3 linked regions of the Homo sapiens genome follow. The protein of the gene in region 1 interacts with the protein of each later gene in a biochemical or structural test. Each region holds a gene or a part of one and is shown on either strand. Other genes may lie near its edges. The genes, in order: TEK, PTPRG and PTPRJ.

What was found.
Region 2: of the proteins of TEK (region 1) and PTPRG, one has a biochemical effect on the other in vitro, tested with the Homo sapiens proteins (one large-scale study listed by IntAct).
Region 3: of the proteins of TEK (region 1) and PTPRJ, one has a biochemical effect on the other in vitro, tested with the Homo sapiens proteins (one large-scale study listed by IntAct).

The regions. Positions count from the first base shown.
Region 1 is NC_000009.12:27,115,575-27,119,304, forward strand, and holds part of TEK (angiopoietin-1 receptor isoform 1 precursor), read left to right. Parts: intron 1-3,730. UniProt on the Homo sapiens protein: Tyrosine-protein kinase that acts as a cell-surface receptor for ANGPT1, ANGPT2 and ANGPT4 and regulates angiogenesis, endothelial cell survival, proliferation, migration, adhesion and cell spreading, reorganization of the actin cytoskeleton, but also maintenance of vascular quiescence.
Region 2 is NC_000003.12:62,275,071-62,278,570, forward strand, and holds part of PTPRG (receptor-type tyrosine-protein phosphatase gamma isoform 1 precursor), read left to right. Parts: intron 1-802; coding exon 803-896; intron 897-1,901; coding exon 1,902-1,978; intron 1,979-2,480; coding exon 2,481-2,609; intron 2,610-3,500.
Region 3 is NC_000011.10:47,983,365-47,987,094, reverse strand, and holds part of PTPRJ (receptor-type tyrosine-protein phosphatase eta isoform 1 precursor), read right to left. Parts: intron 1-3,730. UniProt on the Homo sapiens protein: Tyrosine phosphatase which dephosphorylates or contributes to the dephosphorylation of CTNND1, FLT3, PDGFRB, MET, KDR, LYN, SRC, MAPK1, MAPK3, EGFR, TJP1, OCLN, PIK3R1 and PIK3R2. Plays a role in cell adhesion, migration, proliferation and differentiation.

The sequences.
Region 1 (3,730 bases):
CAACTAAAGAAAATGAGTAGTATTTTGAAAACAACTTGTAGGTTGATTTTTCTGTCTTTGCAAGAACTCCTAAATAGTTGTGAATATTGCCAAAAGTCAGGTCCAGTTATAGTTATAACTTGCTCATAGCCAAATGATTTTGAAACCAAGATGAAAAGGAAAAGGGAAGAAAGGACATAGAGGGAGCAACCTATACAAAGGGGGTGTGTATAAAATAGCAGGGCAGGCTTAAGGAAGCTGAGTGAAGCTGTAATGTAGGATGAAGGTAGAGAATTAAAGTTGGGGTCAGATCAAGAAGGGCCTCACAGGCCATTTTAAGTAGGTTGTCCCTCATTCTGTACATGTTGAAATTTAGCAGAGTGTTTGTTCTATCATGTCATATATCAGATTTATGTCTTGAAAAATTCACTCTAATAATAGTTTTCAGGATGGATTAACATGGTAGAGACCATAGGCTGGGACCAAGTTGGCTTCCTAACATTCCAGGCAAGAGGACTGTGAGGATAACAGGGGGCTTGAGAGAGATTTAGGAGGTGAAACTGCAGGAGTTAGTGATTGGTTGTATATGGAAGGTTGAGAGGGAGGGAGGAGAATAAGTCATTGCTCCAGCATTCTGATTTGGATAATGGTGGTGCCATTCAGTGTGCTGAATGGAGGTGGGCTGGGATAAGGCAAATAATTATTTTGTTCATGTTGATTTTGAGGCTACATGTAAAGGAAGTTTTTTTTTTTGAGACTGAGTCTTGCTGTGTCGCCCAGGCTGGAGTGCAGTGGCACGATCTTGGCTCGCTGCAAGCTCCACCTCCCCGGTTCAAGTGATTCTCCCACCTCAGCCTCCTGAATAACTGGGATTATAGGCACCTGCCACCACACCCGGCTAATTTTTGTACTTTTAGTAGAGACGGGGCTTCACCACGTTGGCCATGTCTTGAACTCCTGACCTCATGATCCACCTGCCTTGGCCTCCCAAAGTGCTGGGATTACAGGCGTGAGCCACCGCACCTGGCCATAAAGGAAGATATTTATCAAAATTTGGCTGCCCACATCTGAAGCTCAGAGGAAGGGGATTGGGCAAGAGATTGAGATGTAGAAATCTTTGGTATATGGTAAGTGAAGCCACGGGCATGGCTATATTTCAAGATTGAAATGAAGGAACGAGAAAGAGCAGATACCCAAAAATTTGATGAAGAAGAAACAGGTAAGGAGCTGACAGGAGAAGCAAAACCAATGACATTCCTATCCTGGGACTTTAGAGAATTGCTGCTGTAGCAGCCATGGAAAGAAATTTTTTTTTTTTTTTTTTTTGAGTCGGAGTCTCGCTCAGTCCCCCAGGCTGGAGTGCAGTGGTGCGATCTCGGCTCACTGCAAGCTCCGCTTCCCAGGTTCACACCATTCTCCTGCCTCAGCCTCCCGAGTAGCTGGGACTACAGGCGCCTGCCACCACGCCCAGCTAATTTTTTTTTTTAATTTTTAGTAGAGACGTGGTTTCACTGTGTTAGCCAGGATGGTCTCGATCTCCTGACCTAGTGATCCGCCTGCCTCGGCCTCCCAAAATGCTGGGATTACAGGCGTGAGCCACTGCGCCCGGCCGGAAAGAGAATTTTAAGAAGACAGTAAGATGGGGCAGCAGAGTAACAGCCTCCGGGCCTGACACTGGAGCACCAGCCTGCAGGTGTGTTATTTTACAGAGAGCCAGCTGCACCGGCAGCATCACCAAACCAGAGCTGGAAGAGAGCAGCTGGCTTCACTCCTGGCTTTCAGGAAAGGGAATGTCTAAAGTTGCCTCCCTTATTTTTGGAATTTTGAACTGATAACCCTATTCTTACCCATCTGGCCAGACGATTCCTTAACTCGTGTTACACCTGCAGAATGAGTTTTAGATCTAGCTGTGACCTCTTCCCCCAGCCCCACCCCCATTGTCCCCTTGTGTGCCTTCAGGAATCTGATCATTCTTCTCTCCTGCTCCTTCCCAAAGGCTGCAGGAGCAGGTGTGAAGACGTGGATGTGCCAGATGCAGAGTCCTGACACTTTTCAACACATCTGCATATTAGAGGAAGTACATACCCATTGCTTGGTGGTTTCATGTCTAATGTGGTATGAGTGTGACAAAGAGAGGGAGAAAATTTGGACTAGCCAAAGAAGCCAGTCAGGCGTGGGGTTTGAAGGGCATCGTGGGCGGCTGTCATTTGCTCTCTGCTTGTCACAGCCCCTTGCCCAGGGCTTGACCAGTGAGGTGTATGTGCTGGTCACACCCATCTCAGCAGATCTGTCAGCTTTCCCGCTTTTGTTAAAGGGTGATATCATGCTTCCTGGGGGGAGCACTGGAAGACAATGCTCGGCCACTTTCCTCCAGATACAATAGGCGGAGTCAGGAAGGCAGTATTGACATTGCTGGGGCTGGGGAGGCACTCACTGCTCTGCGGCCGTCAGATGGTGAACCAGCTTAACCTTGGCACACAGGGCCTGGGTTGTGCAAGGCGTCTGGCTGCAGAGCCAAAGGGGACTCCACCCTGGGGACAGGAGTGCTTTAGACATCTGGGAATCTGGGATGGGCTTCAAATTCTGATCCCTGTGTCAGAAACAACCACAAAACAATAAGAGTACCAGTAATAACAAAAATGACTACCCTAGGTTGAATGCCTTTATGTGCCAAGTGTTAAATATGATTTTTAATATTTCACAACTTTACACTATAGGTATTATTATTTTTTTAATAGACAGGGAAACCAAGGCTCACAAAGGTTAAGTGACATGTCCAAGGTTAAAATGTAAGTGACCAGCCAGGTGTGGTGGCTCGTGCTTGTAATCCCAGCACTTTGGGAGGCCAAAGCAAGCAGATTGCTTGAGCCAAGGAGTTCGAGACCATCCTGGGCAATATAGGGAGACCCATCTCTACAAATAATACAAATATTGGCTGGGTATGGTGGCACACACCTGTGGTCCCAGCAACCCGGGAGGCTGAGATAGATGGATCGCTTTAGCCTGGGGGTTTTAGGCTGCATGAATGTCGTGATCATGCCGCTGCATTCCAGCCTGAGTGACATAGTGAGACCTCATCTTAACAACAACAAACCGGAAAATGGCGGCCATCCATTATTTTGGATGCCTAACATTTCAAACTTTCAAGAACTGCCGTGCTTTCCCTCTAGGTGATTCTGATGGGTCTGCCAATCACTGGTCACAGAATGTCCCAGCCAACTAACAACAGCAGTTGGTTCAAACAGAAGATGCACAACCCAACAGGGCCAGTTAGACTCTTTCCCTGGGAATTTATGAGCACTTTGAAAGCAAAAGCCTCTCTTTCTTCATAGAGGACACTGTATCCCTGGAGCTACCAACTTCGCTGACCACTTGAAGGAAGCTAGTCTTTAGTACGAGAGAATGAGGCCAATAACAAAAGATGGACCAAGACAGGCACTCTGATAGCATTTGAGACGTGGGTCCAAGGATTTTCAAACACGCAGCCCTGCCTCTTTCAGTTCTGTGAGCTAGTTTCTTTTATTTGTTTAAGCTATTTTGAGTTAGCTTCTATCCCTTGGAAGTGAATCATCCTGACTGACCACATGTCTCAGTAGGAAATGATGGAGACAAGAGTTACACTGAAAAATGACCTGAACCCGAATCCTGGGCTCTTTAAAACACCTCACTGTGCTGCCTTCGAACTAGTGTTTCATGGTCACCTCAGGTTAGTTCCTAGAAAATGAAGGTAACAGCATTTCTTCATGTGGTT
Region 2 (3,500 bases), on another chromosome or scaffold:
TGGAGAAGAACACTGATCTCATATACTCCATTAGGATGGATGCCAGCCCCCAAAAAATAGGATTGACAAAATGGTTCAACCAAGCTACATAAACAGGAATAATAATCAAACTACTGGGCTGGTTACTTATAAAAGCCTTAGAACAATGTTAGTTCAGTTCAACAGAAATGTACTGAGAACTAGTTAAGTACTCCTTTATCTTCAAGAAACTTGATTAGCTCGTAATCAATAGCATTAAGCAATCTTTTTTAATGTAGACTCACGTAGGTCTTTTATGCCAGTGAGGATCACAGAAAAAAATTCACAGCAGCAGTGACATCACATAACAGAAGAATCCACATAGTTCTAGAAATATCTATTGCACACAGTACCTATTTCTACCTGATAGTAGAAATAAGAAAGATACAATCAAGGTCACTGAGAGAAGTACCACTAGGAAAGCACAAGAGTGTTCTCTGGGGCTGGGCATGGTAGATTACACCTGTAATCCCAGAGCAGCCTGGGAAACACAGGAAGACCCCAATTCTATAAACAATTTTAAAAATTAGCTGGTTGTGCTGATGCACCTGTGGTCCTAACTACTCAGGAGGCTGAGGTGGGAGGATCACAGTTAACTGAGCTACAATCATGCCACTGCACTCCAGCCTGGGCAAGAGAGCAAGACCCTGTGTCTTAAAAGGTTCTTTGTGGCACAGAAATGGTCTTGTTTATCAGTAATCTGATTGGGATTTTTGCCAAAGCATCAAGCAAATGCTATCAATTATATCTTTGAATGAAGACTAAAATGTTTTTTCTTTTTCAGCTGGTCACACAGTGTAATGCAAAATATGTGGAATGTTTCAGTGCTCAGAAAGAGTGTAACAAAGAAAAGAACAGAAACTCTTCAGTTGTGCCATGTAAGACTTTAAAACAGTTTGTTAGTGATCTTTTATACTGGATTGTATGTTAGGTACAGAGGCAGCCACTACTCTGATGCTATTGATAGCACCCTTCAATTGTACTGTACGTGGCCGTATGGTAGAAGGTTTTGAAAATGTCCTTTTAGTAACCTCATTAATGTATGACTTTATACCAGCCTCTTACCTGGTACTACCAAAAGGGAAAATGTTATGCTTATTCAACTAAGGTAGTTTAATGAAACTGGGAGAGGTGGTTGTCAGTGTCAGCAAGTGCTCCATCTATCTGACGTAGAATACAGCTTCATTTCACCTTGGAATGCAAGAATTGGGTTACTTCTACCATATTATAACATAAAAAATAATAATAAAGCTGTTATTGCTGTGGCATTAACATTCCTCTAAAACTTAGAATCCTGGATTAATCTGTACAACTAGAACTACCTTATTCAGTTACTGTGGCTATTGAGATCAAGGCACTGTTGATTGGTGGTGACCTTTGTATAAATAGCTAAGGACATTGCAGAGGATGCTGTCTGTGTGCTGTAGGCATAGACATGGGTGATCATTTGGGAGATTTATCTCTAATGAAAAAGGCCACTCTTTTCTAAGACCATCATGAGCAGAAAGACATGGAGAAAGGGGTTGGTAAAAGGACAAAGTATATGTTGGTATAATTGTAGGAATAACAAACTAGAGTCAAAAGTTATCTAAAATCCTCTGTTGTGTCCATATAAAGTATTCTGTTATTGATCTGCTGTAAAAATCTCTCCCACAGTAAAACTGTATTCCTACAATGCCTGTGTCCTTCTGGGTATGTGCAGCAAAATTTCATTTTACATTCTGCCTCAGCTGATAACACTTTAGCTTGTTTAAAAATATAGATAAGTCTTAGAAAGGGAAGCCAGGAGGATATGTTATTCATCAAGCAAATCTCAGAAAGAGCTGTTGGTTCTGTGTGTATAATAAGGCAAATGTGGTGTTTTTGTTTTTTCCATATGATAGCTGAGCGTGCTCGAGTGGGTCTTGCACCATTGCCTGGAATGAAAGGAACAGATTACATTAATGCTTCTTATATCATGGTGAGAGTCAACAGTTAATTATAAATAAAGTCAACTAAACTGAAAGGTGTTAAAGAGCAGATACCACCTGTGTGACTGATGTCATTTTTGAAATAATTTCTCAATGTGTAATATGAAAAGTATAGAGATTTCTGTATCTTGAAACTTTTAACAAAAGATACCTAATCAGTGCTGGTACAAAAATGCTTAAATTAAGCAGAATGCTTCTTAAGGAATTAATTTTATTGTTAATTTCACACATCTAGTCTTTGAATAAATGTTGAAATTTCCCTTAAGTGAAAACAGCAGGGTTAACTAGAAGTGAACTGCACATGGAGAGAAAATTGTCTGCACAGTGCTAGCAGAAGTACATCTAAAAATTAGCCAAATGTACCGAATGCCTTTCTCAATTATTTTAGTGTAGTCAAAACAGTGCTATCTTATTTCATGAATATATTTTACTACCACAAAGTTAGAATAAAACACTCATATTCACTGATTTTTTTTGTCTTCCCAACTGAAGGGCTATTATAGGAGCAATGAATTTATTATAACTCAGCATCCTCTGCCACATACTACGAAAGATTTCTGGCGAATGATTTGGGATCATAACGCACAGATCATTGTCATGCTGCCAGACAACCAGAGCTTGGTAAGTAAAGCACATCTGCTATATATTAATGAGCCCATGAGGCTACAAGCATAAATTACTTTGATACTTTGCCATAGGGCTATAGTATCCATATATGCTAGGGAGGGAATTTAAAATTTTTAAATTCTCATCTTGAAGTCTGTGGAGATTCCTTTCATAGTCTCACAATACTGTCCCTATCAGTTCCATTACTTGAGTCTCTGATGCTATTGATATCACCCTTCAATTGTACTGTCTGTGGCGGTGTGGTAGAAGGTTTTGAAAATGTTTTTAGTAACCTCATTAATATATGACTACACCAACCTCTTCCCTGCTGTATGTCACTTTTGAAAAGTAAATAATTGTAGCTTACAGGTACTGAGTATGTAACTGTGTTTACATGCATTAACTTGTTTAATTCTCAACAATTTTAAGACATACATACTATTATTATCTCATGTAATAGCTGAGAAAACTGAGAACAAACTTGCTCAAGAGAGCACACACAAGTAACTGGAGCCAGGATTTTAACCTGAGTCATCTGTCTCCAGAGACCATGCTTATATAATCATTTTACTGTATGTCTTACCCCAAAATATTGTATCAAAAGTACTAATAGTGAATTTTTTTTTCCCACTCCATAGGCAAGTCAGGTCTACTGCAGGGATAGGCTATTTTGTTCCCACTTAAAGGTCTTTAGGACTGAGCTGCTACTACTTTTCCCTCCCTTAGTCCTTCTCTATTTCAGTCTCTAAACTATACAGAAGGGTGAGCAAGTTTATAAAACAGACTTAAATGTTTCTGCTTAGATCTTGTGGATACTTAAGTTTCGGAATTAGCTGGGTCTATAAAAGTTACTGTGTGGACATGTGAACCCATGAGGTAAAAACAAAAAACAGTGAGGATCTGCCT
Region 3 (3,730 bases), on another chromosome or scaffold:
GTGGGACCACAGGTCCACACCACCATGCCCAGCTAATTTTTTGTATAGACAAGGTCTCACTTTGTCATCCAGGCTGGTCTCAAACTCCTGGGCTCACCTGATCCTCCCACCTCTGCCTTCCAAAGTGCTGAGATTAAAGGAATGAGTCACCCTGCCCAGCCAATAATTCTTAACATTAGGGGAAAAAAAAGTATTGTGACTGAGCTCAGTTCATCTTGCACACACCCAGAGTTATTCCATACTACTCTGTGGAAAACACTTCATAAATATTTGTCATATGGGCCAGGCGTGGTGGCTCAGACTGTAATCCCAGCACTTTGGGAGGCCAAGGCAGGTGGATCACCTGAGGTCAGGAGTTAAAGACCAGCCTGGCCAATGTGGTGAAACCCCGTCTCAACTAAAATACAAAAACTAGCCAGACATGACGGAGCGTGCCTGTAGTCCCAGCTACTCAGGAGACTAAGGCAGTAGAATTGCTTGAACCCGGGAGGCGGAGGTTGCAGTAAGTGGAGATCACGCCACTGCACTCCAGCCTAAGCAACAGAGTGAGACTCCGTCTTAAAAAAAGAAAAAATTGTCATATGAACTAATGATCTGGGGCCTCATTTCTTCTCTCCAAGTAACAGCAGCAGCCACAACTAGCAGTTGGGCCTTGCTTTAGGTGTTACGTAGCAATTCCTTTTCTATCTTATTTGATCCTCTCAACCACCCAGTGAAGCAGGAAGTGTTAGTCCCATTTTCCAGATAAGGAAATGAGAAGTCACAGAGGTTAAGTGACTTGCTGAGTTTATGCAGTGGCAGAGCAAAGACCCAAACCCAGGTCTTTCCATCCCAGACCCCAGTCTATCTCCACAAAGGCAGACTTGCCTTGTAAACTGAGGCCCCAAAGAAATATAAGCAGGAAAGAGGGCACCTGGGTTCTCTGTGTTACAAATGGAGCAGATCATACAGGGTTTAGGACACAAAGAACCCAAAATAAAGGTAGCATGTCCCTGCAGTCCTGGCTACTTGGAAGGATGAAGAGGGATGTCAACTGGACCCAGGAGTTCGAGTCCAGCCTGGGCAACACAGCAAGACTGTCTAAAAAATGTCTGGGCCAGGTGCGGTGGCTCAGGCCTGTAATCCCAGCACTTTGGGAGGCCGAGGTGGGCGGATCACCTGAGGTTGGGAGTTCAAGACCAGCCTGGTCAACATGGCGAAACCTCATCTCTACTAAAAATACAAAAATTAGCTGCGCATGGTAGCGCACGTCTGTAATCCCAGCTACTCAGCAGGCTGAGGCAGGAGAATCGCTTGAACCCGGGAGATGGAGGTTGCAGTGAGCCGAGATCGTGCCACAGCACTCCAGCCCAGGCAACAGAGTGAGACTTCGTCTCAATAAATAAATAAATAAATAAATAAATAAATAAATAAATAAATAAATGTCTGCCACCTCCTCTCTTAGCTGCACACAGAAAACCTTCTCCATGACTTTTTACAGCACAGGATGGTAAATTGGGGCAGTGGAGACATCAGCCCTGGCTCCGCCACGTAGTAGTTAATGAATCTATAGTAAATTATTTTTCTTTTTTTTTATTTCTCTGTGAAGATTCCAGAAGTATACAGTTAAGTTCTGAACCTCAGTTTTCTCTCAGATAAAATAAAAACATGGCTGGGTGCAGTGGTTCATGCCTGTAATCCCAACACTTTGGGGAGCCAAGGTGGGCAGATCACTTGAGCCCAGAGGTTCAAGACCAGACTGGGCAACATAGCGAGACACCATCTCTATTAAAAAAAAAAATTAGCCAGGAATGGTAGCACACGCCTTTAGTCCCAGATACTTGAGAGGCTAAAACGAGAGGAGCCCTTGAGCCCAGGAGGTTGAGATTGCAGTGAATTACGTTTGTACCACTGCACTCCAGCCTGGGTGACAAAGCAAGACCCTGTCTCTTAAAAACAAAAACAGGCCGGGCACGGTGGCTCACGCCTGTAATCCCAACACTTTGGGAGGCCGAGGTGGGCAGATCATGAGGTCAGGAGATCAAGACCATCCTGGCCAACATGCTGAAACCCTGTCTCTAATAAAAATCCAAAAATTAACTGGGCATGGCGGCACGTGCCTGTAATCCCAGGTACTTGGGAGGCTGAGGCAGGAGAATCCCTGGAACCCAGGAGGCGGAGGTTGCAGTGAACCAAGATCACACCACCGTACTCCAGCCTGGCAACAGAGCTAGACTTCATCTCAAAAAAAAAAAAAGGCCGGGCACAGTGGCTCACGCCTATAATCCCTGCACTTTGTGAGGCCAAGGCAGGCAGATCACCTACGGTCAGGAGTTCAAGACCAGCCTGGCCAACATGGTGAAACCCCATCTCTACTAAAAATACAAAAAGTAGCCAGGTATGGCGGCATACGCCTGTAATCCCAGCTACTCGGGAGGCTGAGGTAAGAGAATCACTTGAACCCAGGAGGTGGAGGTTGCGGTGAGCCAAGATTGCACCATTGCACTCCAGCCTGGGTGACAGAGTGGGACTCCCTATCAAAAAAAAAAACAAACAAATAAACAAGAACAGCACCTACCTCTTGGTATTTCTGAAATGGCCAAATGAAATAATGCATTAAAACCCTTAGCACACAGTGCCTGTCATGCATAATGTTACCTATTAATTATAATATCATCAGTGGCATTATATTAGAAGGGAAACACACAGAAAATTGCCTCTTATCCTGCACTCAAAATAATTCCCTAGCCCAAGAAGTGAATGAACTGAGAAGTAATTACTGATGATCCTCTGGCTACACCCAGGCCTACGGTTGTTCAGCCACTCTGCCTCAGCCCCAACCTCAAGCAAAAATTACTTTTAGGAGCTAAATAACCCCTTTGCTGACCAAAATTGCTCATTTGGAAGCCAGGATCCTCTCTGCTTAGGAAAGCTTGGGTATTCCATGGTTATCTTTATCGTGGGGCCCAACTTGAAGTCAGCTCAAAGTCACGGTCTAACCATAAACCAATTTGCTGTTTTCGTAAACTGTCTGCAAACAAAACATAATCGTTTGGTTTTCCCGTTGTCCTGAAGCAAAACAAAAATATTTAAAGTCACTCATATGAGAATCTAACAAGCAGTTTAAAGAGGAGTCAAAATATACTTTGTACTCTGGATGGAACAGGTAAGGAATCAGGCTTAAGGATTAGCCATGAGAGATAATAAACCCAGTTATTATTCACCAGGAAACAAGAAAGTGAAGATAAAACAAAACCAAAACACTACAAGACCAATAAAACAGCTATCAGTCACCAGCTTTTTTTTTTCATTTATTCTTTTAAAATCAGCCCACATCAAGCTGATTTCTTAAAGAACCTGTCAGGATTAAATTTCTCAAGGAGGCAGGAGGAAAACTGCTTTGTCACATTGCCTAAAACATACACACAAACCAAAACTACTGTGCAAAACTGCTATGAGAATGGGAGGAGTCAGACACTGCAACTAGCAAAGTCCTCATGTTGGAATCATCTCTGACCGTCCTTCCTGTCTTAGAAAAGGGGAATGAGATGCCAGTTCAAAAATTGCTTTTCCGGGCCTACTAAGCACTGAGCCTTCCGGCATCTCAGCTTTCCAGCTTCCACACCCGCCCTTATTAATGTCCAAACAGAGCTGTGTCTTTTCCATGACTTGTCCATTTGTTTAACCTGGTATAGTTGATTCCATTTTATAACACACACATAAGCACATACACACACAATCCAGGCCTCAA